Regions from separate parts of the Homo sapiens genome. Here region 1 is linked to region 2. The links come from fine-mapping of genetic effects on gene expression. A gene starts in region 2. The other region holds a variant in brackets. All regions are shown on one strand. Distances are from middle to middle. Region 1 overlaps PILRA (paired immunoglobin like type 2 receptor alpha). Region 2 holds the start of ZNF655 (zinc finger protein 655).

Region 1 (8,000 bases), 830 kb after region 2:
AAGTGTTGGGATTACAGGCATGAGCCACTGTGCCTGGCCCCAAGGTATACTAGTTCTTAAATCAATTTTTAAAAATATCACCCAGGCCTGGCTCAGAGGTTCATGCTTGTAGTCCCAGCTAATCAGGAGGTTGAGGTGGGAGGATCACTTGAGCCCAGGAGGTGGAGGCTGCAGTGAGGTACGATTGCGCACCCCAGCTTGGGCAACAGAGCAAGACGGTGTCCAAAAAACCCAAAAGACACCCATTTCACAGATATTTTAACATTTAACAACATATAATTGAGCATATACCCACTCGTGACTGCAGCTGGCTTTTGTTGTCATTAGGTTTGCTAGTCTTGTCTATCTTCTTCTTGTTGCTCCTTTAAATAACCAGTTTCTGCATTTATTTTGCCTGTGGCTATCTGTTCCCTAATTTATTCCTACGTAACTTTTCATTACTTTCTTCCTCTGAGTTTCTTTACAGCTGGCTCCTCCTGTTTGGGGTTTTTTCTTTGGAAACTGAATATTTTATTTGTTTTAAAAATTTCTTCCCATTTTAAGTAATAAATCCATTTCATACAATGAATTTAGCTTAGAGTGTTGCTTTAGTCATACTCCAGGGTTCTTTTTTAAAATATGTATTACTCTAGTTTTTATTTTCTAAACAGTATGTTATTATACATGTTTTCCTTTAAGTAATTAAAACATTTTAAAATTCCCAATCAAGACATAGCATTTACACTTTTATTACTTTCTCTTAAGAGTGGATGAAGATTTTAGTTCATACTAACTTGAAGACATTAAGGAGCCTGATTTTTTTGTCCTGTGGCTGAGTACTATGTCAATTTTTTAAGGGTGCGTGAAACATCTATAAAGAAGGTGTAACTTGTTTGTAGGATGTGAAGGTCAATATATATTAATGTGACCTTAAAAACATATTTTCAATATACAGTAGGTTTTTTACAGATGTGTTCTCACTTATTAAGACAATCCTGGCTTGGCACAGTGGCTCACACCTATAATCCCAACACTTTAGGAAGCTGAGGCGGGCAGATCACCTGAAGTCAGGAGTTGGAGACCAGCCTGGCCAACATGGTGAAACCCCGTTTCTACTAAAAAAAGAAAAAAAAAATACAAAAATTAGCTGGGCATGGTGGCATGTGCCTGTGATCCTAGCTACTCGGGAGGCTGAGGTAGGAGAATCACTTGAACTTGGGAGGCGGAGGTTGCAGTGAGCCGAGGCTGCACCACTGCACTCCATCCAGCCTGGGTGACAGAGCGAGCCTCCGTCTCAAAAAAAAAAAAAAAAAAAAAAAAAAAAAGACAATCCTGTAAAAACACACTGTATGATTCAGCTAATATGAAGTATTTAGTCAAACTCATGGAGACAGAAAGTAGAGGGGTAGAAGGGTGGGGACACAGGAATGAGGAGTTGTTTAACACGTGAAATGTTTCCATTGAGGTGGATTGTTAAGCCAATGACAGAATTTAAACCACAGACTTACTTTGATAGTACTCTTAATGGTATAATTTCTTCTCCCATTTTATGTCTCTCTTTATGTTTTTTCTTATGTTTCCTTTTTGTTTTCAAGAGAGAGCTATCTTTTAGATCTCCAGTATCCTTTTCCTCTTCAGTAGAGATTTCTATATCTTGAAATAAATAAAAAAGCACTCCGTTAAGACGTGGGGCTGTGAAATGGGTGAAATCCCAAAGACTCTTTCAATTCATCTGTGATTAACATTTTTGGGAAGTAACTCCTATTATAAATTAAAAGTAATATTAGAGTTTTTCACAATCAGAATGTCAATAAATTTTTAACTTAAAAAAAATGTTTCCATTGAGGAAGATGCAAGGGTTCTGGAGTTGGATGGTGTGATGGTTGCACAGCACTGTGAATGTGCTTGATGCCACTGAACGGTGCATGTAGAAATGGTTAAAATGACATATTTTATGTTACCTGTATTGGCAACAATAGACTTTTTTTGATCCTGTGATTTAGTTATCCCTATTTGTGAGTGAGGAGATGAGGTTCTGAGGTCACCCTGCTGATAACTGGTATAGAATCGGATTTAAACTGAGTTGCCTGTTAAGCTGAATTTGAGGAGGAAGAAATAAAATTAAAGGAAGGAAGAAATGGAAGGAAGGAAGAAAGGAATGAAGGAAAGAAGGAAGGAGGGAGGGAGGGAGAGAGGAAGGAAAGGAAAGGAAAGGAAAGGAAAAGAAGGAAAGGAAAAATAATATAAAATGAACTGAGTCGTCTGCATTGAAAGCTGTTAACATTTCACCCTGTTCCCCGCTCCCTGTGTGGGCTTCAGAGAGGAGCTCCCTCACCACTAATGTCCCCCAACCTAGAAAGCAGCACACCACGCCTTTCACCCAGACACCCTGTGCCCCCAGGGGAGGGTCTGCTCATTCCTCATCTCTCCCCAGCTGTCACGACCACCACCCAGAGGCCCAGCAGCATGACTACCACCTGGAGGCTCAGTAGCACAACCACCACAACCGGCCTCAGGGTCACACAGGGCAAACGACGCTCAGACTCTTGGCACATAAGTCTGGAGACTGCTGTGGGGGTGGCAGTGGCTGTCACTGTGCTCGGAATCATGATTTTGGGACTGATCTGCCTCCTCAGGTGGAGGAGAAGGAAAGGTAAGTGCCCAGGACCCGCCCTCTCCCCAAGCCTCCCATCTGGGGGTTTCTCAAAGCCCACCTGCAGCTATGGGGCTCCTGAAATATGCAGACCCTGCTGGCTCCCCTCAAGCCCACCGAGGCCGACTTCGTGGCCTATGCTGAGGTGTCTGCATTTGTGAGGCTCCTGCAGTGGGGCGGGGCAGGGTCACATGTGAGAGCCCACAGCCCTTTTCACACAGCCGATCCCCCCCTAGTTCTTCTCTCTCAGTCATCACTCATCTACCTCCCCTGAAGGTTCCTGGGGAGGAGAGGGGAGGGTCTGCCCTGGGAAAAGGAGAGAGAGAGCAGAAGGGACCAGAAGTAAGCTGAGCTCAGCAGGCACTGGCCAACTGCCCACCTGCCACGGCCTGGCTTGAAACTGCAGAAGCAAAGTAGATAAAGCATAAACCATAGACTCTGCTCTCAGGGAACTAGGGGTGTGGGGTTTTCAGTTGCCTCAAGGACTAATTGCTTCATTGAGAAAGAACTATGGTAGCACTTAATAAGGGTGGGAAGAAGGAGAGGTAATCAGAGAGGACTTCCCAGAGGTGATATATGCAAAAGTCTCAAAGAAGAAAAAGAATTAGCCTGGCAAGTGGTGAGGGTGGTGTAGAGGTCACTCACTTTCCTTGTGGGTGGAGGAAACCATTCCAGGAGCTGCAGGAAGCTCAGTGCTGGTGGAGGAGGCAGGAAAGGAGAGGACCTTGGAAATCACACCCAAGAGCCTCTGATCCCAGAGGCAGCATGAAGCAGTAAAGGGTGACCTCAGCTACCGTGAGAGACCTCAGTCTATGGAGGAGTGGCCAGAGGTGGGCCAGGCTGGGTCAGTGCAGTGCAGGGGTGAGGTGGAAAGAGGAAAAGGGCCAGATCCTGGAAAAGATTAAGTAATAAAACCAAAGAGGTGAGGTGCGTTGAGGTGGCTCACGCCTGTAATCCCAGCACTCTGGGAGGCTGAGGCAAGAGGATTTCTTGAGCCCAGGAGTTTGATACCAACCTGGGCAACACAGGGAGACCCTGTCTCTACAAAATAATAATAACAATAATAATAATAATAATAATTATTAT[T/A]ATTATTATTATTATTAGCTGGGCATGGTAGCCTGTGCCTGTGGTACCAGCTACTGGGAGGCTGAGATGTGAGGATTGCTTGAGCCCAGGAGTTTAAGGTTACAATGAGCTGTGATTTCACCACTGCACTCCAGCCTGGGAGACGGAGCAAACTATCTCCAACTAAATATAAAAATAATTTAAAAAAAATTTTTTATAAATGACACTTGGTTGGTTGGGCAGGGTGGCTCATGCCTGTAATCTCAACACTTTGGGAGGCCAAGGCAGGAGAATCTCTTGAGCCAAGGAGTTCAAGACCAGCCTGGGCAACTTTGCAAAACCCCGTATCTACAGAAAATACAAAAATTAGCTGGGTGTGGTGGCGTGCGCCTGTGGTCCCAGCTACTCCAGAGGCTGAAGTGAGAAGACTGCTTGAGCCTGGGAGGTCGAGGCTGCAGTGAGCCATGATTGTGCCACTACACTGCAGCCTGGCTGACAGAGCAAAACCTTATCTCAATAAATAAATAAATAAGTTGATTGTTAGATTGATGTAGGGGCGAGGGAGCAGGAATAAGCCCCTGTTTCCACTTGAGTGGATGAGGCTGTAATGAAATCACCAAGTACAATGGGGAAGAGAGGAGATCATGCTTGGAGGGGAACGATGCCTCATTTAATTTGGGATCTGTTACACTGGAGATCCATGTGTGGCATCTCAGCAGAGTTGTCCATTGGAAACTCAGAGTACACATTTACAGTTCAAAAGAGAGGACAAGGCCTGAGGCATTAATGAGTTCCACCCCAACATCCTCCAAACCTGATCTGAAGTTACCATCAAGAATGTTTGCAATGGGCTAGGCATGATGGCTCCCGCTCACGCCTGTAATCCCAGCACTTTGGGAGGCCAGGCTGGGCAGATCAGTTGAGCCCAGGAGTGTGAGACCAACCTGGCCAATGTGGTGAAACCCTGTCTCTACTAAAAATACAAAACTTAGCCAAGTGTGGTGGTACGCACCTGTAGTTCCAACTACTGGAGAGGCTGAGGTGGAAGAATTGCTTGAGCTTGGGAGGCAGAGGTTGCAATGAACTGAGAGAGTACCACTGCACTCCAGCCTGGGTGACAGAGTGCAAGGAGATTTGCCCTATCAGCTATGAAAGCACAGAGGGGAGGAGCATGGGGTTGGGGCTGCCTGCAGTCAGATCCTGGCCTCACACCTTCGCCAGGGAAACAGCCTTGTTGGTACAAAGGCTGTGCACCTCACCTTCCTCATGGGCAAAGGGAGTGAAGATAGTACCTACGTGGGGTTGTCCTGATGATTAAATGTACTGTGTTTAGATCTTGCAGAGGGTGTGCCACAGGAGCATCAGCAGTTAGAATGACTAAACAGTGGGCATTAAACCAGGGAACACTGGCTCTCATGGGAGCACCATCGTATGAATACATTTAAAAGACAAAACAGTACAATATTGGCATATTCATACACAGATAAAGCAATGGAAGAAAAGAGGAAAACCTAGGTATAACAGAATGAAAAGAGACCCAAATATATGTGGGAATTTAGTTGGTTAAAATGTTTCTAATCAATGAGGAAAGATGAGTAATTCCATGAATGGTGCTGGAACTATTCAGTAGCCATCTGAGAAAAAATAACATTATCTCCTTACCTCATAATTTGTACCAAAATAAATTCCACAGGGATCAAAGATTTAAATGAGAAAAAAAATAACCCTAGTACCAGAAGAAAATGTGAGATTATTTCATAAGCAGTAGAGACAGTCTTCCTCAGTATGACCAAGCCCCAAAGCCATGGATTAAAATATTAAAATCTGGCCAGGTGCAGTGGCTCATGCCTGTAATCCTACCACTTTGGGAGGCCGAGGTGGGCAAATCACTTGAGGTCAGGAGTTCAAGACCAGCCTGGTCAACATGGTGAAACCCCGTCTCTACTAGAAATATAAAAATTAGCTGTGCATGGTGATGCGCCCCTGTAATCCCAGCTACTTGGGGGGCTGAGGCATGAGAATCGCTTGAACCTAGGAAGTGAAGGCTGCAGTGAGCTGAGATCACACCACTGCACTCCAGCCTGGGTGATAGAGCGAGACTCTGTCTCAAACAAAAAAAAAAAAATTAAAATCAACCACTTATGATTTTTTTTTTAATTCTGCAGAACAAAAACCACAGCACTTTTCTCCTGAGAATGAATAAGAGGGTCAGGGAATTGAAGAGAAAGTTTGACATAGTCACTGAGGAAATGGGAAGTGGAGTTTGAGGATTCAGCTCAGATACGAAACTGTAAATCTATGATAGCAGTGTTGTGCATGGCTGCATTTTTCCCCAGCAGTAGTCAACCATTCAGATTTTGAGACCTTAGTGATTTGTGTTGGTCAGGAATTGTTGTCAGTTGCTACCACCAGGGACCAGAAGTAAAAGTAGCTTAAACAAGACAGAGTTGGGTTATTTTTTTCCTCTTGTAAACAGATCTGGAAGCAGACAGCACATCACTGTTCTTAGACACTCAGGTTCCTACCTTTCTGATTCACCAGCCCTGATGCTGGCTTCTGTCCCAAAGGTTGCCTCATAGCCCAAGACGGCTGCAAGGATTCCAGCCACTATTTCTGGGTTCCTGGCAAAAAATAGGAGGAAGGAAGAAAGGAAAAAAAAAATACTATGCCTCAACTCTCTGTTCCCTTTTAAAGAGTCTTTCTGAAAGACCTAACAACAACTTCTTCACGTGTGAGAGCCCCGGCCCTCTCCACACAGCCGATCCCCGCCCCTCCGACCCAGTTTATATCTTATTGGCTAGAATTTGGTCACATATCCCACAGCTATCTGTAGGGGGAACCCTCCCACTCCAAATACAATCAATTTTCTGTAACTAAGAATAATTGAATAGATATTGGGTAATCAAATACCATTTCTGCCATAAGACACCCCCAGGATTAGAGACTTGCCAGCTAAGTGTGGCAGAAAGACAGGAGATCACAGGTCAAGGAGCTAGTGAGAAGGCAGGAATGAAGAGCAGAGGGGTCAGCAGGGAGTCTGAATAATCTGTAGAAAAGTAGATTATCACGGGATAAGAGTTCAATGAAGTCTAAGAGCAGGTACAGTGGCATAATGACAAAAGACAGCTGGAATGCTTCCAAGCTTATTCTGTGAGGTCAGCATTACCATGATACCAAAGCCAAACAAAGACACTACAAGAAAAACAAAAACAGAAACAAAACAAACTACAGACCAATAACTCTGATAAATATTGATGTAAACATCAACAAAATACCAGCAAACCAAATTCAACAGCACGGCAAAAGAATTATACACCATGGGCCAGGCACAAGAATCACTCAAACCTGGGAGGCGGAGGTTGCAGTGAGCCGAGATTGTGCTACTGCACTCCAGCCTGGGTGACAGAGTGAGATTCTATCTCAAAAAAAAAAAAAAAAAAAAAAAAGGAGCTGAATTGAAAAAAAATAGATTAATATACCAACGGAATAGAATACAGAGTCTAGAAATAAACCCTTGCGCATATGGTCAAAAGACTTGACAAGGGTGCCATGAGCACTTAATGGGCAAAGGACAATCTCTTCAACAAATGGCATTGGGAAAACTGAATATCCAAACCAAAGAATGTAGTTGGATCCTTATCTTATACCATATACAAAATTTAACTCCAAATGGATTAAAGACCTAAATGTAAGACCCCAAACCATAGGGAAAAAGCCTCATGACACTGGGTTTGGCAATAATTTCTTGCCTGTGATACCAAAAGCACAAGCCACAAAAGAAAAAATAGACAAATAGGACAACATTAAACTTAAACATGTTTTTTCATTACAGGACACAATCAATAGAATCAAAAGGCAACCTATAGAATGGGGAAAATATTTGTAAATTATATATCTGATAAGGAGTGAAAATCTGAAATATATAAAAATTCCTATAATTCAACAACAAAAAAATCAACCCAATTTAAAAGTGGGCAGTGGATTTTAACAGACATTTCTCCAGAGATGATATATGCTATGGTCTGAAATGTGTCTCCTCAAATCATGTATTGGAAACTTAGTCCCCAGTGTGACAACTGGGAGGTAGTGTGTTTTGGGAGGTGCTTAGGTCATGACGGCTCTGCCAAACGGATTAATGCCATTATAAAAAGGGATTTCAGGAGTGGGTTCACTGTCTTCTAATCTTCTGCCATGTGAGGACACAGTAATCCTCCCCTCTGAAAGACACAGCAAAAAGCAAGATGCTGGCACCTTGATCTTGGATTTCCCAGCCTCCAGAACTGTGAGAAATAATTTTTGCTTT
Region 2 (11,477 bases):
CCTGGTGGTAGCTGGTATCTCTAAGACTCAGTGTTGGTCTCTAATGCTGGCAGGCTGGACACTCCACCATGGTGAGAGTTACATCAGCCTTGGTAAGAGGTAGACCATATTGGCCGGGCACGGTGGCTCACACCTGTAATGTCAGCACTTTGGGAGGCTGAGGTGGGTGGATCACAAGTTCAGGAGTTCGAGACCAGCCTGAGCAACATGGTGAAACACCGTCTCAACTAAAAATACAGAAATTACCTGGGTACGGTGGTGTGTGCCTGTAGTCCCAGCTACTCGGGAGGCTGAGGCAGGAGAATTGCTTGAACCTGGGAGGTGGAGGCTGCAGTGAGCTGAGATCACACCACTGCACTCCAGCCTGGGCAACAGGGCGAGACTCCGTCTCAAAAAAAAAAAAAAAAAAAAAAGAAAAATAAGAGGTAGCCCATATTGTTGGGACCACGCACAGCCTCTATCCCTGCTACCATGGTCTCTGTTCATAAGCCTATTGCATAAACAATAAGATGGTCCCTAACCAACAAGCCAAGCCATTCATCACTGCCTAGGAGTCAATGCATATCCCTACCTTAGGCTACCTCCTCCAAAATATGGCATGGGTGACCAAATGTACCATTGCTCACTGAGATAATTTTTCTTCACCAGTATGCTTCAGGGCAACGCGAGTGGGGCTGTAATGAAGAACAGTCTGTTTCTGGAAGATGCCAACATGCTGAACTGACCCAATCCCCAATCTGTGCAGAGGCCAAGGCTCTTCTGTCTCCATCAGTTAGTTGTAGGGAACTTTTATAAGGCCATAGGAGTAAGTTTATGGGAGAGGTGGCAGTAGAGCAGAGGTAACTGACCTGGGAGTTTGGAAACGTGGGTTTTGTTTTTTTGCCTTAGAAGGCATGACCTTGCTCCAGAATCTTAGGTATTTGTGCTGTGACTCTTTATGATGGGTTGAATTGTACCTCCACCTCATCCCCAATTAACAGGTTGAAGTTCTAGCCCCTAATACCTCAGAATGTGAAATTATTTGGCAATAGAGGCATTGCAGATGTAATTACTTCAAGATGAGGTCATAGTGGATTAGGGTGGGTCCCTCATCTAATGACTGGTATCCTTATAAAAAAGGGAAGTTTAGAGATAGTACACAGGGAGAATGCCAAATGAAGATGAGGGTAAAGACTGGGAAAATGCTTCTTACGATGCCAAGGAATGCAAAATATATCCAGCAAATCCCCAGAAACTAGGAGAGAGGCATGGACAGATTCCTTCTCACAGCCTCAATAGGAACCACACCTTAATTTCTGACTTCTAGCCTCCAGACTGTGAACCAACAGATTTCTGTTGTTTAAGCCACCCAGTTTGTGGTACTTTGTTATAGGAGCCCTAGCACACGAATGCACACTCTTATTGGGGTTTGCCAGCAACTCCATACAGCACCTGTATCCATCAAGGATATTTCTGGAACCACTGAATTTGCAAGTAAGCTTGCACTGTTGCTTGGATTTACTATAGAGTGCTCTCTTGCCCCAATAAAAAGTGGAAGCTGGCCAGGCATGGTGGCTCACGTCTGTAATCCCAGCACTTTGGGAGGCGGAGGTGGGTGGATTGCTTGAGGTCAGGAGTTCAAGATCAGCCTGGCTAACATGGTGAAACCCCTCCACTACTAAAATACAAAAATGCTGGGCATGGTGGCGGGCGCCTGTAATCCCAGCTACTAGGGAGGCTGAGGCAGGAGAATTGCTTGAATCCAGAAAGCAGAGGTTGCAGTGAGCCGAGATCACGGCACTGTACTCCAGCCTGGGCTACAGAGCAAGACTCCGTGTCAAGAAAAAAAAATAGTAATAAATAAAAAGTGGAAGCTTTTTAGGTCACCTAATACATGTGTTGGAACAGTTTTCTCAGGTGCAGAATATGCTACCTCCCAAATCCAAAGGGGCCCACCAGGACCTGTACCAATTTTTTTGGGATTAGAGGGTGCAAGGTGGAACAACTTTCTTTTACCTTTGGGTGATGTCCCCAAACCACTGGGCCCCACCAAAACTTCATCCATTTGATAAGTGCCCATATCTTCAGGTTTCTGTACTGCCTTAGTAAGAAGTCTTACTAGGATATTTATGACCCTTGTCACTTGCTGCTCACTGGGTACTACTAGCATTTGTCATCAATATATGGACCATCATGATGGTTGGGTAAAGTTCCTGCGGACTACACTGTGACAGAGAACAGGTCTCAGGATCCCACCCTCTCCCTGTATGAGCCACGACTTTGACTCAGGGGACCTGCCGAGTCTGCACAATTGGTCTCCTTTACATTACTGTCACTGTTACAAACAGATCCTCGGCCTAATTTTCAGCTTAGCTAGATGCAGAATTACCTTAGTAATTTATAAAAAATCAGCTATTGTATGTATCTAGATCTATTTCTGGACTTTTTTTTCTTTAAGAAATTCAACCTCATATTTCTGGACTTTCTGTTCTGCTCTGTTGATCTATTTGTCTCTATGCTGATACCATACCATCCTGATTACTGTACCTTTAGGAAAAAAATCTTAAAAAAATACAAGTATTCCAATTTTATTCTTTTTCAAAATTGTTTTGGCAATCCTAAATCCTTAGCATTTCTATATAAACTTTAGAATCAGTTTGTTAATTTGCACTAAAAAAAACAAAACAGGCTCGGTGCAGTGGCTCACGCCTGTAATCCCAGCACTTTGGGAGGCCAAGACGGGCGGATCACCCGAGGTCAGGAGTTTGAGACCAGCCTGGCCAACATGGTGAAACCCCATCTCTACTAAAAATACAAAAATTAGCTAGGTGTGGTGGTGCCCACCTGTAATCCCATCTACTCTGGAGGCTGAGGCAGGGAAAATGCTTGAACCTGGGAGCTGGAGGTTGCAGTGAGCTGAGATCGCGCCACTGCACTCCAGCCTGGGCGACAGAGCAAGACTCTGTCTCAACAACAACAAAAAGACAAAAACGAAAAAAGGTAACAATTTTTTGAGTTGTTTCCACCTCTGTCATCTGGCAAACTGTTAAAAGAAAATTTTGCTCAAAAGCAAAATAGCAGCTGCTGTTTCTTAACACTTTGTTATGTTTTGATGAGTACTGGTGGGAAGTGGCCTCTTTAAGTGGGTACCTTTTGTGGTCCTCTCACTGGAGCCAATTGCCTGAGTCAGCTAAAACTTGGACGCGATGTGCCTCACTGCCATAGCTCACTCACCTTTGCTGCTGAAATGGTTTCCCATCACATTGCTAATAGGTACAACCTGTGAAGGGTTCTAGGTGGGGAAATGGCAACTCAGGAAGAACTCCAAACCTTTAGCTCTCCTAGGATATTAAAATGGCCGTTATGAAGAGGAAGAAGTACTGTGTCATCTATTGTCCTGGGGACCTGTCAACAGGAACAATAGATAGACATCACCAGGGGTGTATTTCTGTTCAACACAAGGAAAAGTTTCTAATTGGAGCTGTCCAGCATGAAATGGACTAAGCAGTGCATTTTCTTTCTCCGATCCTGACTCCACTGTGACGGGCACTGCAGACTAGAGAGATTGTGTCCTAGTATGAATTTAGGTTGGATAAATGATACTTAGGGATAAAGAGAGGAAAGGAATATCAGAATCTCCAAGAAGCTGATACATTTTGAAAAAATATATAAAATGCCACACTTCAGGTTTTCTTGTGTTTAATTTGAAACGTCCAGTAACATTAAAGAACAGCATTTGATTTGCTTAAACAAAGTAGTAACAGCTGAAGTTCCTTCCAAATCACTTTTCTGATTCTCTAAGAGGCTTGCCTATGCCTTGCAGATCTAGCTTCACCTACAAGACATATTCTGTAAGGATCCAGGTTCAGCAAGGTGTCAGAATGTCCTAAGGGTTTCTGTCCCGGCGCTCTGCCTGTCCCGCTTGTGCACAATGCTTTTGCCTATCCCTGTTTCTGCATAGATTTTAGTCTTCCCACCAGGGACGCAACTGTCAGTTTCCTCCGTCTCTCTCGGTTCTATTCCAATCTGCTCATCTCCCCTCCCGTCCCCGCTTTCCCCAAGGACCTACTGAGATTTCGATCCCACAACTTAGTGGGTCCCATCTCACCCAGGCCCCGCAATCCTCGCCTTCTACTTGTCAGCGTTGTACTACACTCTGAGCAGGCACCCCTGTGCTACTCACGGAAGCGGGACCATTAGGTCGGCCATTCCTCCTCACCCCACGACACGCACCCACTGGGTCGGGCCGCCTCCTTGCAGGGAGTCTCAAGGATGGGCTGGCGTCAGGGAGGGGCCCAGGGGGCGCTTTCCCAACACTGGTCGCAGTCATTGTTGGTATAACGGCTAGAGACGCCCAGTGAGTTAGCATGGAGGGCAGTGGGACCGGAAAAAGACGTGGAAAAGCTGCGAAAACGAGCCTTCGAATCATGGACGCGCGGGCCCAGCTCCTCCTCCGAGTTCCTCATCCGGGGCCGTCACTCACATCCGGGGCCCTCACTCACATCCGGGACCCTCATCCGGGGCTCTCACCCACATCCGGGACCCTCATGCCTGGGCGGAGGAGGGGGGGCCCTCATTCGGGACCCTGCACTCCGTCGCCGGAAGTGCCACCGAGAAGCGCCGGCCTCGGGGCTGTCTACAGCGGCCCGGGAGAGGCTGTGGTGGCCCCGAGCGCGAGTGTGTAGGTGACAGGACAGCGGCCAGGCCCGCCCCTCCCCTCGGTGAGTACCCGGAAGCCGTTTTGGGGTCGCAGCGGGGTGGCAGCTTGTTTTGCCTTCACGGGAGTAGAAGGAGGCGGCGTCCGGCCGCGGCCGACGGTAGTTCGCTTCCCCGAGAGTGCGCGGAGGCCCGGGTGCGAGGAGGGCCTGTTTCTCTTCAGCCCTGGTTCATTCACCTCGCGGACCGAGGGCCCCGCCGTCAGGAGCCGGCGACCGTGCCCTGGTGCGAGCTGGTCTGTATGTCCTCACTGGTCCTTTTGGGACTTTGCCTTGGCCTAAAAGGGAAGTGGGAGGAGGGCAGCGCCGGGCAAGGCCTTCTGAGGACCGAGCTGGGAGCCGGGCAGGGGCCCAGGGCGAGGGTGGTGGGAGGGGGACGGCACCCTCATGCGTCCTTGGGCCTGAAGGACGCCGCTCAAACCTGTTCGAACCGCAGCTCTTACCTGCGTTGCTCTCAGGATTCCGGGAAAAGGCCGGTCTAGCTGGTCTGAGTTAGCGAAGGGCCTGACCCCAAAAGTGGAGTTTTATTCGCCAAGCCCGTGTAGTAAATCGGAGTGGGCTGACGGTGTTACCAAGACATTTCCTAGGGGGCCTGCTGTTTTATTTATTTAAATGAGTTTATTTACGTAAACGCGGGCCTGTCACGGTGGTTCACGCCGTAATCCCCGCACTTTGGGAGGCCGAAGTGGGAGGATCGCTTGAGGCCAGGCGTTCGAGTCCAGCCTGGGCAACATAGCGAGACTCCCATCTCTGCTAAAACAAAATTAAAATAAAATGAGCAATCATAACTAGCATTTTTCTCTGGGCACCAACTTGAGCCTCCAAAGACGATTGTAAATTTTAAATATTTTGTTTTGTTTATTTGAGGTGGGCTGTCACGCTGTCATACAGGCTGGAATGCAGTGGCGCAGTCATAGCTCACTGCAGCCTCTACCTCCCAAGCTCAAGCGATTCTCCTGCCTTGGCCTTTGGAGTAGCTGGAACTACAGGCCTGGGCCACCTAATTTTTTTTTTTTTTTTTTTTTTTGTAGGGACGGGGTTTCACCATGTTGTCCAGGACGGTCTGGAACTCCTGAGCTTAAGGGATCCACCCGTCTGTGCCTCCCAAACTGTTGGGATTACAGGCTTGAGCCACCGCACGTGGCCAATTTTAAATATTTTAAAGTTTCCACAGAAAGCTTTACACTATTAAATTGTACCGTGTTAATTTTTTTAATGCCACAAATTCCAAATTAGAGACTCTTCTATGATTTGGTTCTTAAGTATTTAAAGCTGAAGCATATCCATATTTCTTTTTCTTTTTTTTCTTTTTTTTTTTTTTGGGACGGAGTCTCACTGTGTTGCCCAGGTTGGAGTGCAGTGGTGCAATCTTGGCTCACTGCCACGTATGCCTTCTGTATTCAAGCAATTCTCCTGCCTCAGCCTCCCGAATAGCTGGGATTACAGACCCGCACCACCACGCTGGCTAATTTTTGTATTTTTAGTAGAGAAGAAGTTGCACCATGTTGATCAGGCTGGTCTTGAACTCCTGACCTCAAGTGATCTTCCCGCCTCAGCCTCCCAAAGTGCTGGGATTACAGGCCACTGCGCCTGGCCCCATTTTTCTGTTACTTATTTAGGGTGGTTAATCATTATCAACTAATTTTTATTGAATATCCATAGTGTGTAAGATCCTTTGCAAAGTCCTGACGATATAAAATGATGAAATGCTTTAACTTATTACAGTAATTTCTCTTAATCTTACCTTGCAGTGATGGTCATTGTCCTCCAGAGCAGTGATGGAGGAAATACCAGCCCAGGAAGCAGCAGGGTCACCAAGGGTCCAGTTTCAGTCTTTGGAGACCCAGTCTGAGTGTCTGTCCCCAGAGCCTCAGTTTGTGCAGGACACCGACATGGAACAGGGACTCACTGGGGGTAAGGCAGAGAAAGCACTTCCGTCTGGGAGAGTGGGAGTGCGGAGGGGCTCCCGAGGGGGCTCCTGGGCCTGGTTTGAGAGAGGCCAAGAACTGGAATAAGAACATGGTCCCTAGAGGGAGGAATGAAAGAGGGGGCAGATGTGACTCAGTTCAGTCCTAGTCTGAGCCCCTTTATTAAGGATAGCTCATCTTTCTCAAATAAGCAGAGTGATGGCTGCTTACTCGCTGTGGTGGTTTTTCCTTCAGGCAACCTTCACTTCATCCCAGTTCTCACATCCAGAATAATTTCTAAGATATGCTGCTTTTGCCACATCTCACAGTCCTTTCCTGGCTCTCACTTCCTCTTAGGTTCAGGACCTTTCTTTCCCCTGTTCCCTTCACTTAGTTTTTCTTTGCTTTGTCACCTGCCATCCATTCTGTTGTAACTGCAGTGTTTTGTGACTAGACTAAATTTGGTCAAGGAAGCAACCATTTAATTCCTTGGTTGAACACAATGCCTGTATGAATGTATATATACTGTATTTTGACTACGCAGTCACACTTTGCTGTATCGTATAGGTAGGTTGGTCTTTTTCTTCCTTTGTTTTATAAGAGCTGTGTCTTAGATTGCCTGTGGTTAACTCTAGTGCCTGAAATAACTTGTGTGTCACCCACACAGATCAAGTGCCACAATGTGTAGAGTGCTGTGGGGGATTGTGGGACTGTGGAAAAGATTTCGAGGAAACAGATGACCCTTTCTTGTTCTTGGGGGCCTTACACACTGGTTGAGACAGCACCCATTCACAAGAGAAACGCTGATCAAGTGTCTAGAACAGTGCCTGGAAAGGGTCAGAAGTCTGCTAAATAACCCTAGCCCAGGACAAGTCCCCACAAGTCTTTATGCTTTGCTTTGCCCATCTGCAAAACAGGTATAGTCTTACTCTTCTGTAAGAGGACTGTCATGTGATGAAGATAAAGTGAAATACAAGCTTTCCTAAGAAAATCCTGTATCACAGGTCAAAACACGCATAAGGCATGCAAGTACTGAGACGAAGCAGAGTAGACACACCCAATACCTGAAAAATGTTCATTGGTTTTACTAGAGTATTGAGGAGGGTCCTGCTGACACCCCTTGGGCTGGAGAGGCCTCCTCTGAAAGGGAGCCCTGGGAAAGGGCTGCTCTCACTCTTCACTCCTTTCTCCTCCCTCAGCTCCACCTGTTCCTCAGGTGCCTGCTCTTCCCCGTGAGGGAAGCCCAGGAGACCAGGCAGCTGCGCTCTTGACAGCCAGGTACCAGGTGAGCTGAGGAACCCTCTGCTTTTCCTCAGGGACTATTGCTACTGATGGAGTGTGGCCTCTCTCTCATCCCATCTGTAGACCTTGCCTGGAATTTTTTTCAATAGCAGACTCCAGTTTGGGAATTGATCCTCTTCGGAGACCTGGACTTCACATAAACCAACTTCCCATCTCCCCAGTGCCATGAGCAAACTCTGTTTTCTCTTTGTCCATGGTTGTGTGATGGGTGCTTATTAGATGTTTAAGGGTTATGGGCTTTATTCCGTAGGTTCTAATCTGTTCTCCCTCCTCCTCAACGTAAGTACACAGTGGATACCCTCTCTATGATCTTCATTCTCTGGCCATGGTGCTACAGTGTTCTCATTCCTCAGAGCAGCCAGGATGTGTTATTTCAGGAGTTTGTGACATTCGAGGATGTGGCTGTGCACCTTACTCGAGAGGAATGGGGATACCTGGACCCTGTTCAGAGGGACCTCTACAGAGAAGTGATGTTAGAGAATTATGGGAACGTGGTCTCACTGGGTAAGGACTTCCTTATTATTCGGTTTATCTATTTGAATTTCTTTACTTTCTTGTTTCTTCCTAAGTATAAGGTCTCTGAGAAGGTCTGTAGAGTGTGGCTTAGATTCCAGGACTTAGAACCTCTGAATCCTTATCTTTCACATCGTCTTCTCCGGGAGGGGTAATTAACGTTTGTTTGGGGGTGCCAAGAAGAGACATTCTCCTCCTTATCCCCAGTTCATGTTTATGGCCATTGTGGGGCATCTTTTCCCTTTTAGCAAAGGGAAACTTTCTTGTGCTTTGCTTGATTTCTCACCGTTCTTTTCTTTTCCATTTTTGTAGGAGAGACCCCAGGGTGGCCTCCCAACCTCCAACCAGACACTTTCCTCTTTGTTATCTCAGTGTCCCTGTATTAGAGAATTGAAGAATTTCCCATTTTTCTAGGAAAAAGAAATGCCGTTTATTTAAAAAGACAGGCTAAATTCCTTCTTGTTGAGTAGTCCCTCACCCCTTAAGATCCCCAGATGTATCTCCAAGCAGGCAGAACTTGAGATGTCATTTGAAGGCATGACTCACTGTGAGTACATTTCAGTGAGTCACCCAGAATGGTAATCCCACGTAACCACACCCAGGGCAGCAGAAATCTCAGATGTTTACCCCATGCTGAGGTGGGGTCAATGCTTAACTCATGTCTCTCCCTTGTCATTTTGAAAGGTACAGTGGGAAGCTGGGATTAGCCAAGCTGTAGTGCTGCTGGGAAGCATCAGTGGGGTTTGTCGGCAGCTCCCTTGGTGTGAGCATTGTTCCTTTTTCTTTAGTTTATTTTTTATATTATATTATATTTTTTATTTTATTTTATTTTTAGATGGAGTTTCACTCTTGTTGCCCAGGCTGGAGTGCAGTGGTGCAATCTCAACTCACTACAACCTCTGCCTTCCAGGTTCAAGCGATTCTCCTGCCTCAGCCTCCCAAGTAGCTGGGATTACAGGCATGGGCCACCACGCCCGCCTAATTTTGTATTTTTAGTAGAGACGGGGTTTCACCATGCTGGTCAGGCTGATCTCGAACTCTTGACCTCAAGTGATCCACCTTCCTTGGCCTCCCAAAGTGCTGGAATTACAGGCATGAGCCACCGCACCCAGCCTCCTTTTTCTTTAGTTTCTTGCTTGCTTCTGCACTCTTCTTTTTGTGTGTGTAAATACTGAATCATGCATTTTCTTTTCTTTTTTTTTTTTCCGTTGGCTTTGTCTATGCTGGTGGCATCCAGGGCATTGCTTTGTCTCCCTGATTATGCTCAGGATTCAAGGTCTTCTTATTTGTGGGGAGGCAGGCTGCCCACTGGGACGGTTTTTAGTGTGTTTTCCATTCCTGGCTCTTTAATCTTTGTAGGCATACTTCTCCGCCTTCCCACCACCCGGATTCATAGTGTGAATTCCTGCCCGGCCCTGAGTCATACCCAGGCAAGTGCTTTCTCTGGAGAAACACTTGCCGTCCTTACAGCAGGAATCTCCAAGAGATGGCCCAAGTATCGGCTTCCCATCGATATTGCTCGTCCCTGCTCGGAAACTCCTTTTCCACGATTGTGAGATATTAAAATTGACTGATGGAATAGAAGCTCCCCAGGATGCCACCACTGTGTAAAATCGCAGCTCCTCAAATTACCTCTGTTTAATTTCAAATGTTAGGGTCCAAGGAAGCCCTCTGTTGCAACCAGATATGTTTTGAACCCAGTTCATTCAGAAACCATGGTTGGTGGTCATCATCTACTTGTATTGTGAAAAACCAGAAATTCCAAATTCAGCTCTTCAGTTATGGTCTTTTCATATTATTTTAGAATGTGAAACTTATGCTGTGTGCCCCTCCTTTTATGTGGCGAACACAACCTGCCCCGTATGGTGCCTAACTCTCCTGTGAACCCTGGGCTTCCCTCATGTTTAACATTCTGGTTTCCTCCTTCCTTGAAGTCCCTGTGGCCCTCTTCAAGGTCCTACCTTCCTACCCTTTATTCTTTGTGGTTCTGTACAGATTGATGCAATTATATTGCCTTTCCTGATTAAGTGTTCCTTACTCTGTCCTTGATGGAGGGGAGAAGGGAGGGCAAAGAAGTTAAATTTATTTCAGGGCATCAAATTGAATATCTACTTAATAACTTTGTAAACTGTAAAGTGACATACATATAATTGTAAAGTACTGTTAATTTTATCTAATAATTACAGAGTTTCCAACAGTTAACCTGTCTACTTTTTGGAGTAAAGAAACTTTGTAGCAGTTTAATGCAGTCTAATAGCATAGTATGCTATAGACTGAACTTTATCCCATTTCCTCTCTTATCTCTGCACTGCACACTCGACATGCAGTCGACATGCATACACACTTTTACACATACAAGAGACACGCACAGTGCAAGAAAGCCTTCTACTCATCTTGCTTTTGTGATCAAGTTAGCAGCATCTCCTTAGCAGTTATTTTTACAATCCTTGGGAAATCATTTTCATATTTTTGGGTTCAGCAGACTTCATCTGAAAATTAACCCATTTATGCCTAGTGTTCCATTATTGGAACACTAAGCTTGCGGGAATTATTTATGTCCCGCTGCTCAAGGTCATCGCCAAGGTCTGATTTTTAACAAAAATTGCAACCTCCAGCATAACTGGGTTAAGTTTATACATTTATTAATTTAACTTTTTAGGGTTGTAAGACTTTTTTTTTTTTTGAGACGGAGTCTTGCTCTGTTGCCCAGGCTGGAGTGCAGTGGCACCATCTCTGCTCACCGCAAGCTCCACCTCCCGGCTTCATGCCATTCTCCTGCCTCAGCCTCCCAAGTAGCTGGGACTACAGATGCTCGCCACCATGCCTGGCTAATCTTTTCGTATTTTTAGTAGAGATGGGGTTTTGCCATCTTAGCCAGGATGGTCTCGATCTCCTGACCTCGTGATCCGCCTGTCTCGGCCTCCCAAAGTGCTGGGATTACAGGTTGTGAGCCACTGCGCCTGGCCTCCAGATTGTATTTGTCACAGACATTAGAACGTTGGTCCTTTGCTTAAGTGCTTCCACTATGCAGCAGTAAATATACAGAGTACAAATAGCTGAG

The links. PIP is the estimated chance that this variant, and not a neighbour inherited with it, causes the effect.
Region 1: its variant is fine-mapped to the expression of ZNF655 in whole blood (INTERVAL, PIP above 0.99).

Annotation. Positions count from the first base shown.
Region 1 is chr7:100,387,475-100,395,474 of GRCh38, forward strand. It overlaps PILRA (paired immunoglobin like type 2 receptor alpha), which reads left to right. Exons shown (of 7, transcript NM_013439.3): 3 at 2,414-2,632. Among named protein-coding and RNA genes, the nearest start is that of PILRA, 18 kb to the left of the region's middle. The variant T/A (reference allele first, on the strand shown) is at 3,719.
Region 2 is chr7:99,554,088-99,565,564 of GRCh38, forward strand. It overlaps ZNF655 (zinc finger protein 655), which reads left to right and starts at 4,555. Exons shown (of 3, transcript NM_138494.3): 1 at 4,555-4,700; 2 at 6,446-6,608. The coding sequence starts at 6,473. It overlaps LOC105375422 (a long non-coding RNA gene), which reads left to right. Exons shown (of 3, transcript XR_927801.4): 3 at 649-1,870. It also overlaps a transcript of FAM200A not described here. RefSeq lists enhancers at 4,200-4,329, 4,360-4,629.